Linked DNA regions of Homo sapiens: region 1 is linked to region 2. The links come from fine-mapping of genetic effects on plasma protein levels. Region 2 holds a variant in brackets. A gene starts in the other region. All regions are shown on their reverse strands. Region 1 holds the start of PRSS27 (serine protease 27). Region 2 holds the start of LOC107986512 (a long non-coding RNA gene).

The links. PIP is the posterior inclusion probability: the model's chance that the variant is causal. Protein levels are from antibody-based Olink assays in UK Biobank. Linkage for the fine-mapping came from a reference panel and not from the study's own genotypes, which makes the PIPs less certain.
Region 1: it holds the start of PRSS27, and the variant in region 2 is fine-mapped to the plasma level of the PRSS27 protein (UK Biobank, PIP above 0.99).

What each region holds. Positions count from the first base shown.
Region 1 is chr16:2,714,744-2,726,039 of GRCh38, reverse strand. It overlaps PRSS27 (serine protease 27), which reads left to right and starts at 5,816. Exons shown (of 6, transcript NM_031948.5): 1 at 5,816-5,925; 2 at 9,514-9,540; 3 at 10,160-10,322. The coding sequence starts at 5,880. RefSeq lists silencers at 3,433-3,602, 4,286-4,355, 4,486-5,245, 10,100-10,149, 10,230-10,279 and 1 more and an enhancer at 4,979-5,546.
Region 2 is chr6:2,230,103-2,241,398 of GRCh38, reverse strand. All of the region lies in intron 1 of GMDS (GDP-mannose 4,6-dehydratase), which reads left to right. It overlaps LOC107986512 (a long non-coding RNA gene), which reads right to left and starts at 10,031. Exons shown (of 2, transcript XR_007059405.1): 1 at 9,949-10,031; 2 at 7,088-8,816. The variant A/G (reference allele first, on the strand shown) is at 4,147.

The DNA.
Region 1 (11,296 bases), not on the chromosome of region 2:
ATTAAAAAATCAGTCTGGCTTGGCGGCAGATGCCTGTAATCCCAGGTACTTGGGAGGCCGAGGCTGGAGAATCGTTTGAACCCCAGAGGCAGAGGTTGCAGTGAGCCGAGATCGAACCACTGCACTCCAGCCTGGGAGACAGAGTGAGACTCCATCTCAAAAAAAAAGAAAAGAAAAAAGAATACACTAAGAAGTGACAGAATATTGGCACAGAGAATATCTTGAGTATTCTAAATATGTATGCCAATACTCCAATAATATCATAATAAAATTGTCATTGGAGTTGGCATGGAAGAAGCCCAGCGTGGCAGGTGGAGTAACAGCCCCACTAGATGTCTATGTCCTAATCCCCAGATCAGTGAGTACATGACCTTACATGGCAAAAAGAGATTTTACAGGTGTGATTAAGTTAATAACGTTGAGGTGGAGAAATTATCCCAGCCCATCCCAGTGGGCCTGATCGAATCATAGGAGTTGGCTTTTAGCAGAAAACCTTTCCCAGCTGTGATTAAGGAGAAATGTGATGATAGATGAAGAGTCAGAGAGATGCAAAGTGAGAATCCAGCCCACCATTGCTGGCTCTGCAGATGGAGGAAGGGGCCACAGCCAAGGAATACAGTGGCACATACAAGCTGGGAACAGCCCTCAGCTGACAGCCAATGAGAAAGCCAGGACCTCAGCCCTAAAACACAAGGAGCTGAATTCTGCCAACAACCCGAATGATCAGGAAATACGTTCTTTCCTAGAACATAAATAAAGGAACACAGACAGGGCTAGGAGGCCGAGGCAGGCAGATCACCTGAGGTCAGGAGTTCGAGACTGCCCTCAGCACCCCCTCAGCCTCCCTCCCATGCTCATCAGCGCCCAAAGTCCGGAGATGGCCAGTGTGGCAGGGGACTGGCACGTCAGCACTGCCCCAACACGGGCACACCCAGCCAGGTTCCAACAGCACCTGGTCTCGACCTCAACTTTGCTCTGAAATTGGAGTGGGCGCTGGAAACAGGGAGAAGCCAGGCAGCAGGAGCAGGCGCTTTGAGCCTGTGGGGGCCGGGGGCCTTCCAGGCCCCCCGAGAGCACAGGGATGCCCCGGTCTGCAGCTACAGCTGGGTGGCTGCTGATGTGCCTGGGAAGGCAGGGCTCCCCACCCTGCCAACTCAGAAGGGGCAGGGCTCCCGTCTGTTCCCAGCCCCTCCAGGTCCATGAAGGGCACAGACCCGGCCATGCTTCCCCCACTGCAGCTGGTGTCTTCACAGCGACCACTCCAGACGGGCCACTGCTGCCATCACTGGGACATCCCCCAGCTGTCATCCTTGTAATCCCTCTTGGGTTTCTCCTGATTTGGATTCCCCACATCCTGGATCTCTTGTCTTCCTCCTCCTCAGTTTACACCTTGTTTAGGTGAAACACATCTTCCAGTAATCTGGCCAGGTTAAAGAGCTAGTGCAATGACAGCACAATCACGACAGTCCCAGCTTTCCTATCTCTTGAGTCACAGTGTCACAATGAGCACTGACTGCCCTCTAGACTTGGCGCACAGTTATCCTTCCAGAATGTCCCTCACCATCAGCCTCAAGCTTTCCTTCAGTACTCCGCCATGTTCCACGTCTGCATTTCACAGACCACAGCTTGTGCTTTCTTGATTTTTTACTCTTTTAGCTGAAGAGCATCTTTCCTCTGGTGGTTTTCCAACAATCACGCATAGGGAGTACATTTTTTTCTCTTTTGTAGAGATGGGGTCTCACTGTGTTGCCCAGGCTGGTCTCCAACTCCTGAACTCAAGGATTCCTTCTGTCTCAGTCTCCCAAAGTGTTTCAATTACAGTCATGAGCCACCATGCCTGGCCAAATGTTCTGAGAACTTTCAAGCATGAAAATGTCTGGTTTTATTTATTTATTTATTTATTATTTTTTATTTTTTAGAGTCAGGGCTGCCACGGTGGCTCACGCCTATAATCCCAGCACTTTGGGAGGCCGAGGTGGAGAGATCAGGAGGTCAGGAGTTTGAGACCAGCCTGGCCAACATGGCGAAACCCCATCTCTACTGAAATACAAAAAATAAAAAATAAAAAAAGAAAGAAAAAGAAAAAGAAGTTACCTGGGCATGGCTGTGCCTGCCTGTAATCCCAGCTACTCAGAAGGCTGAGACAGGAGAATCGCTTGAACACAGGAGGCGAAGGTTGCAGTGAGCGGAGATCACACCACTGCAGTCCAGCCTGGGAGGCGATAGAGTGAAACTCTGTCTCAAAGAAAAAAAAAGAGTCTTGCTGTGTCGCCCAAGCTGTAGTGCAATGATGCAACCTCAACTCACTGCAATCTCTGCCTCCCAGGTTCAAGTGATTCTCCTGCGTCAGCCTCCCCAGTAGCTGGGATTACAGATGTGTGCCACCATGCCTGGCTAATTTTTGTATTTTTAGTAGAGACGGGGTTTCACCACAATGGCCAGGCTGGTCTTGAACTCCTGGACTCGAGTGATTGCCTGCCTCGGCCTCCCAAAGTGCTGGGATTAGAGGTGTGAGCCACCACACCTGGCCAAAAATGTCTGTATTTCACTTTCACACCTGACTGAGAGTGTGTGGCTATTGCTGCTTACTGACCAGCACCCTTCCCTCTTCCTTTCACCATGCCCAGCCATGACTTCTAACCTTAGAAAACTGTCCCCCTTCCAGAGAGTTGATAAATGTCCAATTCAATTTTTTTTTTTGAGACAGAGTCTCGCTCTGCCACCAGGCTGAAGTGCAGTGGCGCGATCTCGGCTCACTACAACCTCTGACTCACAGGCATGAGCCATGGCACCCCGCCCCAATTCTATTTTTGAAGGGAGGGACTGATTATTTTAAAAACATGGCCGGGCATGGTGGCTCATGCCTGTAATCCCAGCACTTTGGGAGGCCGAGGCGGGTGGATCACCTGAGGTCAGGAGTTCGAGACTAGCCTGGCCAACATGGCGAAACTCCATCTCTACTAAAAATACAAAAATTAGCTGGGCATGGTGGCACAGGCCTGTAATCCCAGCTACTAGCGGGGCTGAGGCAGGAGAATCGCTTGAACCTGGAAGGCAGAGGTTGCAGCGAGCCGAGATCGTGCCACTGCACTCCAGCCTGGGAAACAGAGCGAGACTGTGTCTCAAAAAACAAAACAAAACAAAACAAAACAAAACAAAACATAAAAATCTTTCTGGATTGTAATGCCCTCTTCATTTGTTTGGTGGGTGGTATGAGGAAGGGGCCCATTCTCAGCCCTGGGTCCGTGGGCTCCAGGTACAGGGACATGGAGGCGAGGTCTGGGTTCCCGATCCTCTAATCGCTGGCGTGGCTGTGCCTTGTTCTTCAGGAGCCCAAGTTTCCCTGGCGTCCTCGCTTTCTGATCTGCATCTTTTTTTTTTTTTTTTTTTTTTTTGAGACAGAGTCTCGCTCTGTCACCCAGGCTGGAGTGCAGTGGCGAGATCTTGGCTCACCGCAAGCTCCGCCTCCCGGGTTCAGGCCATTCTCCTGCCTCAGCCTCCAGAGTAGCTGGGTCTACAGGCGCCCACCACCGCGCCCAGCTAATTTTTTGTATTTTTAGTAGAGACAGGATTTTACCGTGTTAGCCAGGACGGTCTTGATCTCCTGACCTCGTGATCCGCCTGCCTCGGCCTCCCAAAGTGCTGGGATTACAGGCGTGAGCCACTGCACCTGGCCCTGATCTGCATCTTGACTTTTGTCACTTTCTTGATTTTAAGGCAGAGACACCCTTAGAGGAATGGGCTTAAAAGGAGGGTTGGGGAGCAGACACCAAGGAACACACAGAAAGGTGCCAAGAGGAAATAGTTACCTGCGAGGCTCTAAGACTGCCTCTGAGATCCCATCAGTGACCTGACCATAGGGTGCTGGAGAAATGTGGTCACCCAGACACTTTGAAACACTTTCCGTGGTTGATAATTATTATTCTCCTTTTTTTTTTTTTTTTTTTGAGACAGGGTCTCACTGTCTCCCAGGCTGGAGTGCAGTGTTGCAATCTCGTGTCATTGCCATCTCCGCCTCCCGAGTTCAAGTGATTCTCCTGCCTCAGCCTCCTGAGTAGCTAGGATCACAGGTGCCCGCCACCAAGCCCGGCTAATTTTGTATTTTAGTAGAGACGGGGTTTCACCATGTTGGCCATGCTGGTCTCGAACTCCTGACCTCAGGTGATCTGCCTGCCTTGGCCTCCCAAAGTGCTGGGATTCCCGGTGTGAGCCACTGCACCCAGCCCGTCGCGGTTTATAATTAGAGATTTCTCTGCTAAATGATGTTCTCTCTCTCACACTGAGGTGAGGTCTGTTTGGGTCACCTTTGTATTCCCCAAACCGGGGACAGTATTGGGCTCAAATCTGCTCAGAAATGACTGACTGACTGAATGAATAAATCAATACATGAATGAATACGTTTGGAGTCCCCTCTTCCCACTCCTCGCCCTCCCTCCTTCCCTCCAGACCCCCAGGGGCTGCCCAGCCCGCCTCCCACCCCCGACCCGGGAACTCCAGGGACTGGACGGGGAGGGAAGGGTGGGAGGAGGCGGTGGAGGCGGAGGCGGAGACGCGGGAGGGCGGGGCTAGGGAGGGCGATGCGGGGAGCCGGAGCCCGGACCATGAGGCTGGGAGCGCCCCTTCTGCACCCCTGGCCGCCCGCGCCGCGCCCCGCGCCCACCAGAGGGCAGCACCACGACGCGCGCGGACAAGGCTGAGGCGGGAACGGCCGCACCCCCAGCCCCGCCCGGAGCCGCCCGGCCCCGCCCCGCCCGCGAGTACCGACCCCCGGCGCCGGCGGGGAAACAGGTCCGGCGCCCCCGACCCCACGGCCCGGCCCCACTCTGTCTCTGACGTCAGCGCCGTGCCCCAAATAACTTCCTCCCCGAGCCTCTTCCGCCGCGGCGCCGCGCCCAGAGCCAGGCGGGGACACCGAAACGGTAACCCCGGCCCGGCCTTCCCGGAGCCGCTTCCGCCCCGCCTGGTGCCAGGAAGCCCCCGCCCCTTCCAAGGGATGGCAGCCGGGGCCCGGGTCGGCCGCCTGGGCCGCGCTGGCGCGCGCCTGAGGAACTTCTGGGGCCTGCTGTCCCGGGAGGAGGGTCGCTGCGGCCAACTCCGGACCCCGCCCCATGTCCCATCGCCTCCCCTGCCCTCGGCCCCGCAAACACCCCTGGCCTTGACTTTCCCACCAGCGCGGCCCAGCCCCACTGTGTTCCATCGGCGCTCAATAAAATACTGAATGAGGCCGGGCGCGGTGGCTCACCCCTGTAATCCCAGCGCTTTGGGAGGCCGAGGAGGGCGGATCACGAGGTCAGGAGATCGAGACTAGCCTGGCCAACACGGTTAAACCCCGTCTCTACTAAAAATACAAAAAATTAGCCGGGCGTGGTGGCACCTGCCTGTAATCCCAGCTACTCAGGAGGCTGAGGCAGGAGAATGGCTTGAACCTGGGAGACGGAGCTTGCAGTGAGCCGAGATTGCGCTCCAGCCTGGGCGACAGAGCGAGACTCTGTCTCAAAAAATTAAAAAAAATAATAATAATAATAATGAATGAAGCTGGACGGACTTCGCGTGCACCGCGGTCAGCTCGGGGTCTGCTGGGGGGTCTGGGTCAGCTCAGGGTCCAGGAACCGAGGCCAACGGCACCCCGTGCTGCGCTGGGGTGAGGGGTCTGCCCTGGGGTCTCGGGGTTCAGGGCTAGGTCACGGAGGAGTCGGCTCTGGGCGCTTCCTTCCTGAGGAGAGGAGCTGGGCAGGCCGGGCCGACGGGTTGGGCCGCATAGCCGGGCCTGTGCTCATCTCCAGCATAAAACTCCACTTCATGGAGCCTGCACCTCGCTCGTGCTCCAACGCTTCTGCCACCGCCGACCACGGCCCTGCGCCCCAGCCAGGCCTGAGGACATGAGGCGGCCGGCGGCGGTGCCGCTCCTGCTGCTGCTGTGTTTTGGTGAGTCGTGAAGGTGCAGGGTCCTGGTGGTGCAGTCCCCCACCAGGCTCCGCTGCACTGCCTGGGGCTCCGGCTCAGCCCCCTACTCCCTGGGACAGGCTGGGGCTGTGGGACAGGCCATCATCCCTCCTGCCCCTGAGCAGGTGGGAAGGCTCCAGATGTGCCAAGTGGGGAGTCCAAAGTGGGGAGGCAGGGTGGGAGGTGTGCGCACAGGCCCCAGAGGACCCCACCGGCATAACTGGGCAGCACCTCCTCCCATGCCTCTCCGCGGGCACTGGTGTGCCAGCTCTGGCCAGGCTCCCTGCTTCCTGCCACCTCGGCCTCTCCCCCCATTCTCTAGGTGAGGACAGGGGCCTCCTACGTGCAGGATGTGAACTCAGGCTCCAAGTGCCTGGACCATCATACTCGGGGTGGGAGGGTGGCCGAGCCGAGGGCTGCTGCCTGTGCCCGGAAGCCCCAGCAGGCTGGCTGCAGGCTCAGTAGAGAGCTGGGGGCAGGGGGTGTAGGTGGCAGAGGGCCCTGTCTCCTGCTGACAGAGGAACCGGTGATGCGCCACCGTGCCCTCTCCCAGTCCTGGGTCAGGGACAGCAGGTGCCAGCCAGGGGGCCCCACCTGCCAGGCCCCTCCCTGCGGGCCGGGACACTCTCTGTCAGGGAAAACCTCTCACATTCCTGGGCTAGCCTAGCCAGTCTGGCAGCCACCACACTTCCCTGTCCTCAAGTCACCTCCCAGGGCTGGGTCAGGTCATCCCAGGCTGCAGCTTAGCCAGTACTCCAGGCTTCCTTGTTCTCCTGGGTGGGAGGGCACCAGTGGCCCCTCAGTGGCCCGGCCTCCCCCACCCCATGCCCCCAGTCTCCCAGCACAAGGATGGTGCCCTCTGAGCAAGCCATGTGCACAGGAGGTGGAAGGCTGTGACTGCCCCTGAGCGGGGTGAGGAACCAAGGTCATTGCCAAAACTCTTTGGCAATGAGTTTTGCAGTCGGTTCACTAACAGCTGTGACCAGAGGCTGGACTCCTGGACACGTCCTCACTCCCAGCCCGAGGGTGGCACTCCCACCAGGTCTCTGGCTGGTGGTACCCACTAAGCTTCACCATCCCCACCAGCTACCAGCGAATCACAGGCCCAGGCCCCAAACAATGCTCCTGACACCCCCGGCACCCCTGGCTGTTGCTTCCAGCCCCCACAGGGCGCCCACCCTGAAGGGCTCAGCTGTCCACATCCCCCATTTCCCATCAGCCCCCACAGCCACACTTGTGTCCATCCACACATTCCCTGAGATCAGGCCCCCCAGATGCAGCCCTTGCCTTCTCGGAGCTCCTGGGCTAAGATAAGACTTGATTCTGGCTCCAGGGTGATGTAGACAGAGCTCCCATCAGGACAGAGAGCTCAAGAGAGAGTATAGGGCTTCCAAGGTAGACAATGCAAGCAAGCAAGGAAGGCTTCCTGGAGGAGGCAGCATTCAGTTGGGCCTTGATCTCTAGATCACGATTAGGACTTGGCTGGGAGCGGTGGCTCACGCCTGTAATGCCAGCACTTTGGGAGGCCGAGGTGGGCGGATCACGGGGCCAGGAGATCGAGACTATCCTGGCAAACATGGTGAAACCCCTCTCTACTAAAAATACAAAAAAATTAGCCGGGCTTGGTGGCGGGCCCCTGTAGTCCCAGCTACTCGGGAGGCTGAGGCAGGAGAATGGCGTGAACCCAGGAGGCGGAGCTTGCAGTGAGCTGAGATCGCGCCACTGCACTCCAGGCTGGGCAACAGAGTGAGACTCCATCTTAAAAAAAAAAAAAAAAAAAAGACTAGGACTTATGGAGACTGGGGGAAGGGCATCCAGATTGTGGGGTGAGGGGAGCAAGCACTCAGAGACCAGAAGACTCTGCCTAAATGAGAAGTACAGGGCTACTTTAGGAAGGAAGGATCTGCATGGGGAGGAGGCATCGCTGAAGGGGCAGTGCTCAGGCAGGGAGCATGGAGACACAGCTCCTGCAGACTCCCAGAGAGCGAGAAGGCCTGACAGTGCGCGCCCTTCTGCAAGCAGGATCCTCAGGCTTGGAAGGAGCAAGGGGTCGGGGGGCCAGGGAATAACCCTCCCGGTAGTGTTTGCATTTTAAAGGGCACTTAATTAGCACAAATTAATGAGCAGAGCATCCAGGGCAGACTCTCCATTTCCCGTTGCCCCTGACCCCGCTTCTGCAGGGCACCCCTTTGCCTGCCCTGCACCTTCTCCACCTCCTCCTCCTGCCCATCCACAGCTGCCCCCTCGCCGCCCGCTGCCTTATCGTCCAGCAACCCCCGGGGTGTCTCTGCCCACCAGTGGTGTTGGGGAGGGTGCCCCCCAGACTGTGAGGCAGACAGAAAGGAAGAGGATGCCGTAAAAACCCTGGGGGTGCTTGGGCCCTCCATGGCCACTTCCTGTCCCCACAGCCCCTCAACTCCAGGGGACTGGTTATCTTTTCCGGGCAGAGTGAAGACATGGTCCATAGCAGCTGGCCCGGGCACCGGAAGGCACTGGGGGTTAAGGGGAAGCTGAGGGCCTAGGTGTGGGGAGGTGGCTGTTCTAACCCCTCCCCAGCTACGGGCGAATCTTGCCCCCACAGAATCAGACGCGTGGAGTGCAGGGGTGGTGAGAGGACTCTCTCAAGGCCAGGAAGTTCCAGGCTTTGCTACCCTGGGGCTGTACACTATGGTCCTGGCTGGGGTCTCCAAGCTGGGGTAGAGGCTCCAGTGTTTGGTTAAAGGCCCAGCAAGAGGCCCTTTGTGTCCTGGGGTGTGGGAGGCAATGGACAGCAGAAAATATGTTCCCATCCTTGGTTCCCCCGAACGACCCCATATCTTGCTTCTCTTCCGGGCCCCTCACTTTATCCGCTCCAAAGCCCCCTTGCACAGCCCAGCAGGGGGTCCTGGGCCTCGTCTGCCAAGCCTGCTGCATGCCTGGGAGAGGGGTCAGCTCTTGGGACTCTGGAATCTTGAGAAGGCTGATCCCTGGTGGCCAATGCAGACCACTGTACCTTCTCTACTCCCCTGAGGCCAGGGAGAAGCCTGTGGGGCTCGGGCCTCAGCCTCGGGACCAAAGTGAGACTTGGGGAAGGAGCTCATTCCGGAGCAGACTGTGAGAGAGCCCTGGGCAGCTCAAATGTAGAGACAGCTCCCGGGCCTCTTCCGCTCTGAGCTGTTCCGGGAGGAAAGGCCAACCTTACAGTGCCAGGGCTGGAGGCTGGACCCTCCCCAGAAACTTCCAGACAAGGATGGGTGTGGAGTGTGGAGGGAGAGGACCCTTTCCAGGATGAGAAGGGGACATCTAGCCTGGGGATCCCTTCACTGGCATCTCCTGACCGGCTCCCCATGTGGCAAGGAGCATCCACCCTTGCAGATAAGCTGTGGCCCATGGGCCTGGGCCTGAGCATACGGCAGAGCCAGCCCTGGGGGGGAAACTGCAGGCCCTTGGGCTCTCCGGTGAGGTCCCTCTGTGGACTGTCCCTCTGGAGTCCTCAGGAGCTGGGGAGGGTCAGTGGAGAGGGGCTGCAGGGTTGGGGAGGGCAGGCCAGGCTGCAGCTGGCCTGGCTGATCACCCTCTCCTCACTTCCAGGGTCTCAGAGGGCCAAGGCAGCAACAGGTAAGCACCCAGGGCCCTGGGGTGGGAGGGACAGGAGCCGGCTGGACTGAGCCAGGGACACTCATGGCCAGAGGGAATTTGGAACGCACAGGACACTGGGGAATTCCAGAGGAGGGGAAAGTGGGGGCTGTGTGGAACTGGAGCCCAGAAAGGAGAGGAGGAGGAAGGTCCACACAAGAGCAGGACGGGCAGCACAGAGCCTTGAGGCGCGGTGCAGGATGAGGGCGGCAGGGTCTGAGGATCACCCTGAACCGTGACTGGCCCCCTCTGGGTGGCTCCCTTGCAGAGGGCTTGACACCTGTTCTATCCTTCCAGGCACCTGTTTGGGTCAGGCCCTGGGACAAGACCCTTCCCTGGGTTATCTCAGTGCCTCCGTGGCCCCCAAGAGGCAGGTGTTAGGTTGCCTTTCTCGGCGAGGAGAGTGAGACTTTGGGGGGCAGCTGGGGAGGGTCTGCCTGTATCCCAGACTGCCCCGAAGCCCAGGCCTCCGACTTCCCCAAGGTCTTCGGGCAGGTCAGGGGCAGGAGGGCCGAGGACTGGAGTGTGAGGCTGAGAGCTGGGCCTCGGCCATGGAACCAGCCCCAGTGAGCGCCCCCACCCGCTCCCCATGCTCCCCCAGCCTGTGGTCGCCCCAGGATGCTGAACCGAATGGTGGGCGGGCAGGACACGCAGGAGGGCGAGTGGCCCTGGCAAGTCAGCATCCAGCGCAACGGAAGCCACTTCTGCGGGGGCAGCCTCATCGCGGAGCAGTGGGTCCTGACGGCTGCGCACTGCTTCCGCAAGTGAGTCCGCCCGCCCCTGCCCCCGCCCATAGCGCTGACAGCGCCCCGCGCGCGACCGGTTCAGCACCGTGGACAGCGCCCGCCGCGCCAAATCCTGCGGGTGACCTCCCTGGGGGCTCCTGGTCCAGCCCCTCCCACCCAGATGCTTCCCTTAGGTCCAACTCCAGGGCTAACTTCCAGTTGCAACCGCTGCTCCCGCCCGCGGGAGGTGCCTCGCACCGCCCCCCGACCCCCTCCATCCCCTCCACCCACTCACCCACTCCCTGTGGGTCCCTGCAGAAGCGGCCCGGCAGGCTCTGCCCACCGGCCCCTCCTGGCCTTTCCCCATCCCGCACACACCTCAGCTCCAGGACACTCTTCCCGGGAGGAACTCTGCTCACAAAGCCCAAGGACCAGACAGAACGGCCCTTCCTCCCCTCACCCACCTGAACCACCCCAGAAAGCCCTGAGCAGAGGCCAGGCCACCCAGCCCTCTGCCATGTATGAACCACCTGGTCCCACACCTTCCGGGTGTCCCAGGCCCCCTCACCTCACACCTCAACACCGCAGCTCTAATTATTTTAAACCCCACATCTTTTTCTTTTTTTTCTTCTTGATCTTTAAAAGAATATCATGACAAAAAAAACCCCACATCTTAAATTCAGATACTCACGGCCAGGCACGGTGGCTCACACCCGTAATCCCAGCACTTTGGGAGGCCAAGGCGGGCAGATCAGTTGAGCCCAGGAGTTCAAGACCAGCCCGGGCAACACAGCAAGACCCTGTCTCTACTAAAAATAAAAAAAAATTAAAAAACAAAAAACAAACAAACAAAAAAACCCCAGGTGCAGTGGTGCCTGTGGTCCCAAGTACTCAGGAAGCTGAGGCGAGAGGATGGCTTGAGCCCAGGAGTTGGAGGCTGCAGTGAGCTACAGTTGCACTGCTGCACTCCAGCCTGGGTGACAGAATGAGAACTCTGTCTCTAGGGGAAAAAA
Region 2 (11,296 bases):
TTTCTCATGCAAAATACAATTCCAATAGTCCCTAAAATTCTTAACTTGTTCCAGCACCAACTTAACGGTTCAAAGTCTGAGACTCAAAGCAAGTTCCTTCTAGCTATGAGCCTGTAAAACCAAAAACGAATAATTTTTTTCCAAGATACAATGGTTGTACGGTCATTGGGTAGACATTCTGTGACTGCAGCAGCCAGGATGTCGGAGCAGCATGTAGGACGTTCCAGGACTCCTTGAGGTGTGCCAGGCCAGCTGTGCCCCGGGCCTGTCTCCCCAAACCATGCTGTCCTCCTAGGTCTCTGGGCCTCTGATGGGAGAGACAGCCTCAAAGATGTCTGAGATGCCTTCAGGGTCTTTTCCCATTGTTCTGACTATTAGCACCTGGCTCCCTTTTATCCATGCCAACCTCTTTAGCAGGTGATTGCTCCCCAGCACCATTGGCTTTCTTTACTGAAAAATGCTGTTTTCTTTCACTATCACATGACCAGGTTGTAGATTTGAAAAATTTTTCTGATCTGTTTCCCTTTTCTCTACCAATTCTACAAGTAATGCACTTTGAACAGCAAATGCAACAGACTGAATTACCATCTTCCTTATGACATTGATAGTCTAGTGGTATGATGATGGTGATAGTTATAATTATGGTAGATTAAAATAATTAACAAGTACTGAGCATTTAGTTTGTGCCAGGTACCGTTCAAAGTGCATTACATTTTGTTCAAAGTATATTTGTTGAAGCAACAGAGAGCTTCTATGAGGTGGTTTTCTTTTTCTTTTCTTTTTTTTTTTTTTTTTTTGAGACAGTCTTATTCTGTTGTCCAGGCTGGAGTGCAGTGACGTGACCTCGGTTTACTGCAACCTCTACCTTCCAGGTTCAAATGATTCTCGTGCCTTAGCTGCCTGAGTAGCTGGGATTACAGGTGTTTGAATTACTGCTTAGCTCTTTCTGAACTGCACTGGCTTTGGGTAAGTCACTTATCTTTTCTGCCAGGTTGGAAGAATAATTCTTATCAAATAGGAAATAAATCTGCACATAGTAGTGGCCTTTGCCTCATTACTGGAATGGACCTTCCCTCCATAGTGTTAACAGAATAATAAAAGATTTCTTGACTTTTAGGAAAGGAAGTTGAATGTGGGAGGTATTACTATTTAGCCTTGCTTTGCATGGGGAATCTATTATCTAGAAGCAGAAAGTTCTGTAATATTTGGAATCAACCACAAGGCTATAAAGTACTGGGAGGCCAACAGATTTAATGTCCAGTGAGTCTTTCAAGACTGTGCAAAGCAGATCTGGGAGCTGGTCTTATCTTCTCATATAAGAGGATTGTAGGCAGTGACTTCCATTCTAAATCTTCCTTGCTGGGATTTGCAGTCCTGGGATAAAAGGTTTGGCATTATTGGGCTGGGCGTGGTGGCTCACACCTGTGGTCCCAGCACTTTGGGAGGCTGAGGCGGGCCTCCCAAATCTCTGGATCACGAGGTCAGGAGATCGATACCATCCTGGCTAACATAGTGAAACCCTGTCTCTACTAAAAATACAAAAAAATTAGCTGGGCATGGGGGCAGGTGCCTGTAGTCCCAGCTGCTTGGGAGGCTGAGGCAGGAGAGTGGGGTGAACCCGGGAGGCAGAGCTTGCAGTGAGCCGAGATCGTGCCACTGCACTCCAGCCTGGGCGACAGAGCAAGACTCCATTTCAAAAAAAAAAAAAAGGTCTGGCATTATTGGAAGTGAGAGAGATGTCTTGAGTACTGTCCTGCTTAATCAAAGACTGTTACATGTGATTAATTGAAAGAGCTCTGGACTGGGAATCAGAGGTTGGGTTTTGATACCAATTAATTGTATAGCCTTACATTTTTTGAGTGTTTTTCTTAACTTGTCAAGTGAAAGGGTTACCTGGTTATTCTTAGGGATCTAAGGGCTGCTCCTAGTCTACAGTAGTGTGATGTTTGGATTACATGCTGACTTATTATGTGTACAATAGAGAAATTATGCAATTATCTTTATATTTAAGCAGTGCAGTAATTTCAGTTTTAGACATAAAGCCAATTGGATTTTTTTTTTTTTTTTTTGAGACAGATCTTACTCTGTTGCCTAGGCTGGAGTGCAATGGTGGTATGATCTCACTCACTGCAACATCCGTGTCCTGGGTTCAAGTGATTCTTGTGCCTCAGCCTCCTGAGTAGCTGGGATTACAGGCGTGCGCTACCACGCCCAACTAATTTTTGTATTTTTAGTAGAGTTGGGGTTTTGCCATGTTGGCCAGGCTGGTCTTGAACTCTTGGCCTCAAGTCATCCGCCCACCTTGGCCTCCCAAAGTGCTGGGATTATAGGCGTGAGCCACCGTGCCCGGCCAGGATAGTTTTTTTTTTAAATGAAACCAATGAACTATTAATTTTACTGAATTTGAAATTAAGTTTGTAAACTAAGAAGAAATTCATATGAGTTGTATGTTGTCAGAATTTGTAAGGATAGAGTGAAAACTTGGAGCTGTCCATCTTTGTAGGACATATCAAATGAATGAAGTGACTTTTTGGTGAGGAACGATTTTTTTTTTAACTGGTACATAATAATTGTACATATTTATGGGGTATGTGTGATATTTTGGTACATGTTTGTAAAGTTCAAATCAGGGAAATTAGGATAGAGGAAGGAGTTTTAAATTCTTGGGTTTTTCTTGGGTAGAAAAATGGAGTTAATTATGCCCACATCACAAATTGATGTGTGGATTACAAATGATGATTATATTATAATAAGGCCTATCACTGTTCCTGGCATGTAGTGTTTATGAAGTGATAGTTCTTATTTATTATGAATAAGTTCTCACAGTGGGAAGGAATGAGAGAAGGATGGAGAAGTGCTTGGGAATGCAGTTAGGGGTATGTAGGATGAATGAGAATAGTAAAAGTATGAGGATAATGAGATCAAGGATGCAAATGCATTTTGGTGACAGGTTGGATGGTAATAGTATGGCCAGAAATGCAACCACTGGGAAGGAAAATCAGTTTTCTGGGGGAAGACAGTGAATTATTTTGTTCCTCTGGAGTTTGAAGTGCAGTGGTGCAATCATAGCTCGCTGCAGCTTTGAACTCCTGGGCTCAGGTGATCCTCCTGCTTCAGCCTCCCTGGTAGCTGCCACCAAGCCTGACTGATTTTTTTACTATTTTTTTTTTTTTTTTGTAGAGACAGGATCTCACCAGCTGACCAGGCTAGTCTTGAACTCCTGGCCTCAAGCAATCCTCTGGTCTTGGCCTCCCAAGTGCTGATAATACAGGTGTGAGCCACTGCACCTGGCCTCTTTGTCTTAAAAATGACTTAAAAGTGCTCAGAGGTGGCTGCTGTAGAGTGGGCAAGTCCTAAAGGTGGCCATGCTGCTGTGCTGTACCTTTAGCCAGTCTTCTTCCCTGTCTCCCAGAACTTTCTGTAGCTCTTACTTAGAAGGCATGAAAATTAACACTTTCCCTTTAGTTTCATGATTGATGTTAACCAGGCTATTCTTAGTATATTTCAGTTTTCTCCTTTCTTTCTCCTTTATTTATTTGTTGATTATTTGCATTTCCTAATGTTAAAGATACTTCCAGGCGGGGCGAGGTGGCTCATGCCTGTAATCCCAACACTTTGGGAGGCCAAGGTGGGTAGATCACCTGAGGCCAGGAGTTCAAGACTACCCTGGCCAACGTGGAGAAACCCCATCTCTACTAAAAATACAAAAATTAGCCTGGCATGGTGGTGGGCGCCTGGAATCTCAAGTACTCGGGAGGCTGAGGCAGGAGAATCGCTTGAACCCGGGAGGCAGAGCTTGCAGTGAGCCGAGATCATACCACTGTACTCCAGCCTGGGTGACAGAGCGAGACTTTGTCTCAAAAAAAAAAAAAAAAAAAAAGGTACTTCCAAACTTCCAATTTACAATTTCTCATGCTTTTCTTCCTTTCTTGAGGAATTTTGGGAATCTCACACTTCCAGAAGTAAGGTGCTCAGTTGCATTAACCATTCCTGTATAAGCTTAATACATAGGAAATGAGTGAGTAAAACATGTCTGAAAGGTAATCCTATAGGATAGAAAGCTGATTATCAGTAATGTTCTTGGCAGTGGGGCACCAATGTGCCAAACCTAGTCTTTGGCAAGCTAGTAAGCAATTTTCCTGCCAA[A/G]ATCTTGTGACTTACCATAAGTAGTAACCCAATTGTTTATATAAATTTACTCATTGAAATGACTCAGCTTTCCAGGATATTATTTTGGCATTTACTTATGTAGAATTGAGTTACATAGACTTGAGGTTAGATGATTTTATATGCAGTGACGTTCTTGGCTGAAGGGTATTTACTTCATTTGTTTCAGACTGTTCATACTGTGCCTTTTAAACAATTTACCACATGTGATTCTAGGGGAATCCTTTCTCAGATCTTCATACTAAGTTCTTTTAAACTTAAGAGTGAAAAAATAAAGGTATTTACTAGGGATTTATAGAAAGTATTTCTTTATACTGACTAATTACACTTGGGAAAATGAACCACCAAAGCTTGGTTGTATTATATATATATTATGCTTGAGCATTTGGTTTGATTGTAATGTGAAATGAATTGCTTGATCATGTTTAACAAAAATATGTTCCTTAATGCTGAGTGAAAAAGCCTCTAATTGGCACTTTTAGAAATCTTTTAAAATCAAAACATGATTTTTCTATGTTTCTTAGAATGGTACTGTATTTCTATCACTTTTCACAAAAGTTAGATTTTTAGTATTGCTTTATTCGAACTATATTTTTACATCGGTTCTTTAAAAATGATGAATTGGAATTTTGCAAGTATATGCAGACACTAGTAGTATTTTTTGGTGATCAATATTGATAAACGTGTTTATTGTAGTTTACAGTGGAATCCTTCAAAATGGAAGCTTTGTTGCAAGAGACCTGCAGGACAAAATGCAAGTGTGGCATATATGCTTGTTGGAGTAAACCCAGTCAAGGAGAAAGACAGCAGAAACCCTGTTTGTCAAGAATTGTGGGAGGCCTGAGATTTTACCTTACTTGCAGGCTAACAAGTTAGCTTCTTAAAATTCCACGGATGATGGCAGAAGACACAGCACTCCTGGGTCAGCAGGCAGTATGAACTTCATGTTTGTGACAGCTCTGTTTGTATAGTATTTTCTTGCCCCTCAAAGACCATGTGGGTAACACGGTGGCTGGGTGGGTCTAGGTGGATGTTGCCCATGCAGTGGGTATGCACCACAGTTGAGAAAATCTGAGATTGGGAAACCCCAATTTTTTATAAGGGAACTAATAATCCTGCCCAGCCTTTGCTTTGAGGGAGACATTATTTTTATTATTCTGCATAGCAAACAAATCTTCCATCTGCTCCAGAGAGAAACACTATTGCTATCTTAAAATGCTATCTACAGATGTCCTGTACAGGAAAGATAGTAGCCAATAAAAGCTGTCAGTGCAATCTGCTCATAAGACATGCAGAAACTGGAGAGACCCATAGAGAACTGGCTCCCAACACCATTTGTTTGCCTTGTTCCTGAAACTTACCAGATTGGCAACACAGACCAGTTTTCCTCTTTTTTTTTTTTTCTTATTTTTTTTATTTTTTTTTATTTTCCAGAAAGGGTCTTGCTCAGGCTGGAGTGCAGCAGTGCAAACACAGATCACTGGAGCCTCAACCTCCTGGGCTCAAGCGATCCTTTGGCCTCAGCCTCCCGAGAAGCTGGGATCACAGATGTGCACCACTATGCCTGGCTAATTTTTGTATTTTTTTTTTTTGTTAAGATGGGGTCTTGCCGTGCTGCTCAGGCTGGTTTCAAACTCCTTGGCTCAAGCAATTCTACCATCTCAACCTCTCCAAGTGCTGGTATTGCAGGTGTCAGCCACTGTGCCTGGCCCCAGTTTTCCTCTTATGTCTCCATGCAGACTATGGGGAGCTCCAGCTTTGCATTTGTTTTCTTTTTGCTTGAAGAACAAAATGATAAGACCTGGATTTGGGTGCTTAGTATGGAATGAATTAGGCATTGTCCCTGGGGGAGGCATTTTATATTTCCCTGTATGTATAGGCATGGGAAGTATAGTAGGTTTGATTTTGTTGGAATGTTTAGTAAGTTTAATCTGATAGATTAGTCTCAGTTGGCCTGAAGAAGTCTAGCTCAGAAGGACATTTTTCCAGCCCTGAAGAAGAATATGCCTGCTTCCCCATCACCCCTAAGGGGATGATTCTAACTCTGTTGGCTGTGGCACCTTTGTGTACACGTATCATCACTTGTTTTTTTGTTTTTTTGTTTTTTTTGAGATGGAGTTTTGCTCTTGTTGCCCAGGCTGGAGTGCAATGGCATAATCTTGGTTCACAGCAACCTCCACCTCCCAGGTTCAAGCGATTCTCCTGCCTCAGCCTCCAGAGTACCTGGGATTACAGGCATGTGCCACCACGCCCGGCTAATTTTCTATTTTTAGTAGAGACGGGGTTTCTCCATGTTGGTCAGGCTGGTCTCGAACTCCAGACCTCAGGTGATCCGCCCACCTTGGCCTCCCAGAGTGCTGGGATTACAGGTCCTCACTTGTTTTTAATTTACTCACTGAGTGACCGTAAACTTCTTGCATTAATTTCAATGCTTTCTCTTTTTTTGCTTTAAAATTGTACCTGATGTAAACTCTCATACCTTCATTTAGAGATTACTCCTATCATTTTTGAGAATGTTTCTCTGGTGTCTACCATATGCTAATAGGGCCTGCCCTCGAGGTCAGAAAATTTATGTCTTTTCAAATCTTGTAAGTTTGCTAGGATTTTATTTTTTTTATTTTTTTTGATACGGAGTTTCGCTCTTATTGCCCAGGCTGGAGTGCAGTGGTGCGATTTTGGCTCACTGCAACCTCCGCCTCCTGGGTTCAAGTGATTCTCCTGCTTCAGCCTCCTGAGTAGCTGGGATTACAGGCACCCGCTACCATGCCCAGCTAATTTTTTGTATTTTTAGTAGAGATGGGGTTTCACCACGTTGACCAGGCTGGTCTCGAACTCCCGGCCTCAGGTGATCTGCCTGCCTCGGCCTCCCAGTAGGATCTTGTTTTGATTTTCATGAATTTTGATGTTATCATTGAAATATCTAGAAATCTGCATATTTTATTTAAGAGAGTCTGCTTTTTGTACACAAGGAATGCTTGTTCTTGGTGAAGCCTCAGGTATGATGGATAGGAAGGAATAAGAAAGCTGTTTGAGAGGAGAATAAAAGGACTTAGCTACTGATTGGATTGTTGGATTGGGAAAGTCAGGAGAAGTAAGGGTTTTTGTTTTGTTTGTTGTCTTTATTTTTATGGTTGATACCAATGACATTCAGTTTGTGTAAATCCATGAGGACAAGACTGTATTTTACTGCTGTATCCCTAGTGCAGTGTCTGAAATATGGTGGGCTCTCAATAGATATTTATTGAATGACATCTGGAGTTCATACTTCCTCAGAAATCCTGGAGGAAATACACTGCATATAAGAAGGAATGGGAATGTAGATGTGCAGTGTATCATACTTTAGAGCAGGATCGACAAACTGTATCCCCTGGACCAAGTCCAGCTGCCTCCTGTTTTTGTTTTTGTTTTTCGAGATGGAGTCTCCCTCTGTTGTCCAGGCTGGAGTGCAGTGGCGCGATCACTGCCCACTGCAACTTCGGCGCCCCCCACCGGGATCAAGAGAGTCTCATCCCTCAGCCTCCTGAGTAGCTGGGACTACAGGTGCCTGCCACCATGCTTGGCTAATTTTTGTATTTTTAGTAGAATTGGGGTTTCTCCATGTTGGCCAGGCTGGTCTAGAACTCCTGACCTCAAGTGATCTGCCCACCTCAGCCTCTCAAAGTGCTGGGATTACAGGTGTAAGCCACCACGGCAAGCCCTGTTTTTGTAAATAAAGGTTTGTTAGAGCATAGAACACCTGTTTACTTATTGTTTCTGGCTGCTTCCACATAGAGTTAAATAGCTGCAACAGAGACCATGTGGCTTTGAAAGCCTGAAATGTTTACTCTCTGGCCCTTCACTGAAAAAGTTTTCTAAGGTTTGCTGTAGAGCTCTCTTCCTTAGGGTGGATAGTGGAATTGCTACTGATCATAGATGATATCTCCAAATGAGAGAATGTGGAGACAGAAGGATGAGAGTGAGGAGGAGGAAAATGTTTGCATTTCAGGCTTGGAAGAGAAGGAAGCTAGGGAGGGAGGGGAGAGGAGAGAGAACAAAAGTACTGAGTAATATCGTGGAATCTGAGGGAGGCCAGAGATGTTTTTGTTGTTTTGGTGGTAACATGTAACATACAATTTATCATTACTGACATTTAGTACATTTACGAGGTCGTACCTTCTTTACCACTCTAGTTCCAGAACACTTTTTGATCACTCCGGAAGGAGAGCCCATACCCATTCATCAGTCACTCCCCATCCCCTCCTTTCCCAGCCCCTGGCAGCACAAATTTACATTCTGTCTTGTATGTTTTTCCCTTTGCCTTAGATCTGGGAAAGGTTTTTTTTCGTCATGGTGGGGAAATGGGCTTCTGTGCAGTCAGGGGAGAAGCCGATGGAGGAAAGGAGTAGTGTGGTTATGGAAGAGGCTGAAGGGGAGAAGGTCGCGGGCATCTGGAGGCCTGAGATGTGCATGAGCATCCAGTCCTGCACCGGCGCTGGTGCTGCAGTGGTGCCGTCTCTGTCACTGCAGTGCTGTTCTCTGAGAGCTGTTCCGCAGCGTGATTTTGGGTGCTGTTCCTCATTATGAAGCCTCTCAGTCATCTTCTTCAGTCTGCACTGTACCTTTCATAGATTTCTGATTCAATTAGCTGCAGATTGGTTTTTGTGGCTTCCTACCTGAACGAAGATAGAAAATGATGATATATATGATGGTGGACGGTAAGATGACAAACCAGTTTTGAAGTCCTCTAAGAAACATGAAAGTGGATGTGAGTGGTAGATCACACCAGTGAGGTTGTGATTTTGATTAGAGTGTTGTGAGTAAATTTCATGGGCCATAAGTGCTGACAAACAAAGATTGTTATGGTTTGATGTTTCAAAAGGGGCATCAGGAATTGAGGATAAAGTGTTTGTTGTACCCCCTTTTGGGGTCTAGGAGAATGAATGAGTAAAAATCCTGAATGTCAGTAGCTCATGGAGTGTTAGATTTTACATAGACTGGTAAAAACCTGAGATTGATATATGGTGGCTAGGTTATTTTGAAAGTAAGAATCTTAGGAGTAACAAATTGCTGTCTGCTATCACAGTATTTAAAAAAAAAAACCCGTTTTACACACCAAAATGTAAGAAGAACATGCTCCCAGAATAAAGAACACTCACCAAATTATATACTTTTGACTATGTGAACTACTTTTTCTCATTTCCATTTTTTTCATTTTGCTAAAGAACGGGTTAAAAATGTGTCATGGATTGGCATTAGTCCATACAGTACATTTGGGAACCACCTATTGAATACTATTAAAAAAATTTCATTTGTCCAATTTCATTTGTTCAGATTCTGAAATGAAAAACAATTTCATTTATCTGATTTCATTTGCTCAGAACCGAAATATGAACTTCTTGGGGATAGGGATCATGTCTTAAACCTGTGGTGACCATTTTTTTTCTTGACTCCAAGGTAGGACACACGTTATCTCATATATAAATGATCTAGAGTGGAACTGAATGTTGGAAACCAGGGCTGTCTGGAAGAATTTGGAGTTACTATACTTTATAATACTTCATTCTTCCTGGTACCCATTTGATATTGAGCACCATAAAAGGTGCTTGGTAAGCATTCGTTTGTTGGTTGTTTCAGATTTCATTTTAACCACTTCCTTTGGCATGCTGAGCAAATTCCTTAGGCTTTTTTTTTGGAGACAAGGTCTGGCTCTATTGCCCAGGCTGAAAAGCAGTGGAGCCATCTCAGCTCACTGCAACCTCCGCCTCCTGGGCTCAAGCCATCCTCCCACCTCAGCCCCCTGAGTACCTGCGACTTTGGGTGGGTTCTACCATATCTGGCTACTTTTTGTATTTTTCTTTTTGTAGAGATGGGGTTTTGCCACGTTGCCCAATCTGATCTCAAACTTGTGAGCTCAAGCCATCCGCCCACCTCAGGCCTCCTAAACTGCTGGGATAACAGGTGTGAGCCACTGTTCCTGGCCCTTGGGCACTTTTCATACCTCACAAAGAATATACTAGCAGAACTTAGGAGTCAAGATACCCAGGGAATCCTTACAGCTCTGTTTCTGCAGCTCTCCCTAGTCTCTGAGTGTGCTTGGAAGGAATATTCAAATCATCATTGTGTTGTTTCAGGTTTAACTTGGGAACTTGAAACTGAAATCAAGTTTTGGGGACCTTCTGGGTGGTGACAGATCTTGTTGTTTTGACCAGGCACTCTTTCTTGTCCCCCTGTCCTTATAATGTTGACTTAGGCATCCTGCTAGCTTTGTGAGTTGGTCAACCCTGGGTATTAGGGGAAGGAACGGGGGGGGGGGGTGGGAGGGGGGAAGAGAATACTAAATGCATTAAGTGAATTTCTCAAGGTGGATGGGAAGGTTTTGGGGTTTTTTTTTGAGGAGAAGTAATAATACATAGTAGATTTTTGTTAAAGTTTTGCTTTTCTACATTTAAATATAAACCTTGAAAAGGAGAAATAGGAAGAGTTGACCAAGTATTGAAGTCCCTTTTTTTTTCCTTTTGGCTTTTTTATGGACAACGGTGGTTTTTAATTTTATCCCTTATCAATTTTGCTATTTTGACTAATTTAGTAAGTTCAAATTATTTAAATTTATGTAGTATTTTCTTTCCATTGAGTTGTCTTTTAATATTTACTGTTTGAACATATAGGTTTTAACCTATTTAAGCGTTACCAAAAGTTTATACTATTGCCAGATTGTTACTATGGAAAATTTCATTTTAGTTGCTAAAAACAAGGAAGTATTTTATCTAGGCCAGGGAAATAATTGGGAGCCCAACTAGAAATCTTAGCAGATTCTCTATATAGGACATCGCTGTTAGTGGAGGGCTTAGGGATGGATCCAGGAAACCTGAGATTACTGCTTAGGTCTTTGAAGAATGGAGATCACTTAACCTTTATGGGCTGTGGTTTTTCTTCTCTTTAAATATACGTTTCAGAAAATAGATGTAAATATACGTAGCTAATAAAAGCATCTAGATTTTTAGTTTTCATCAGTCAAAATTTATAGCATGTGTAATGGAAACTTTTAGTAGGACATTGACTGATGTAGATAATGCTTAACGTTTGGATTTGGGAAAGATTTCAGGAATTAATCCTGTGGTAGGACTCTGAGGAGGAAGTCAACTGTGGACTCTGG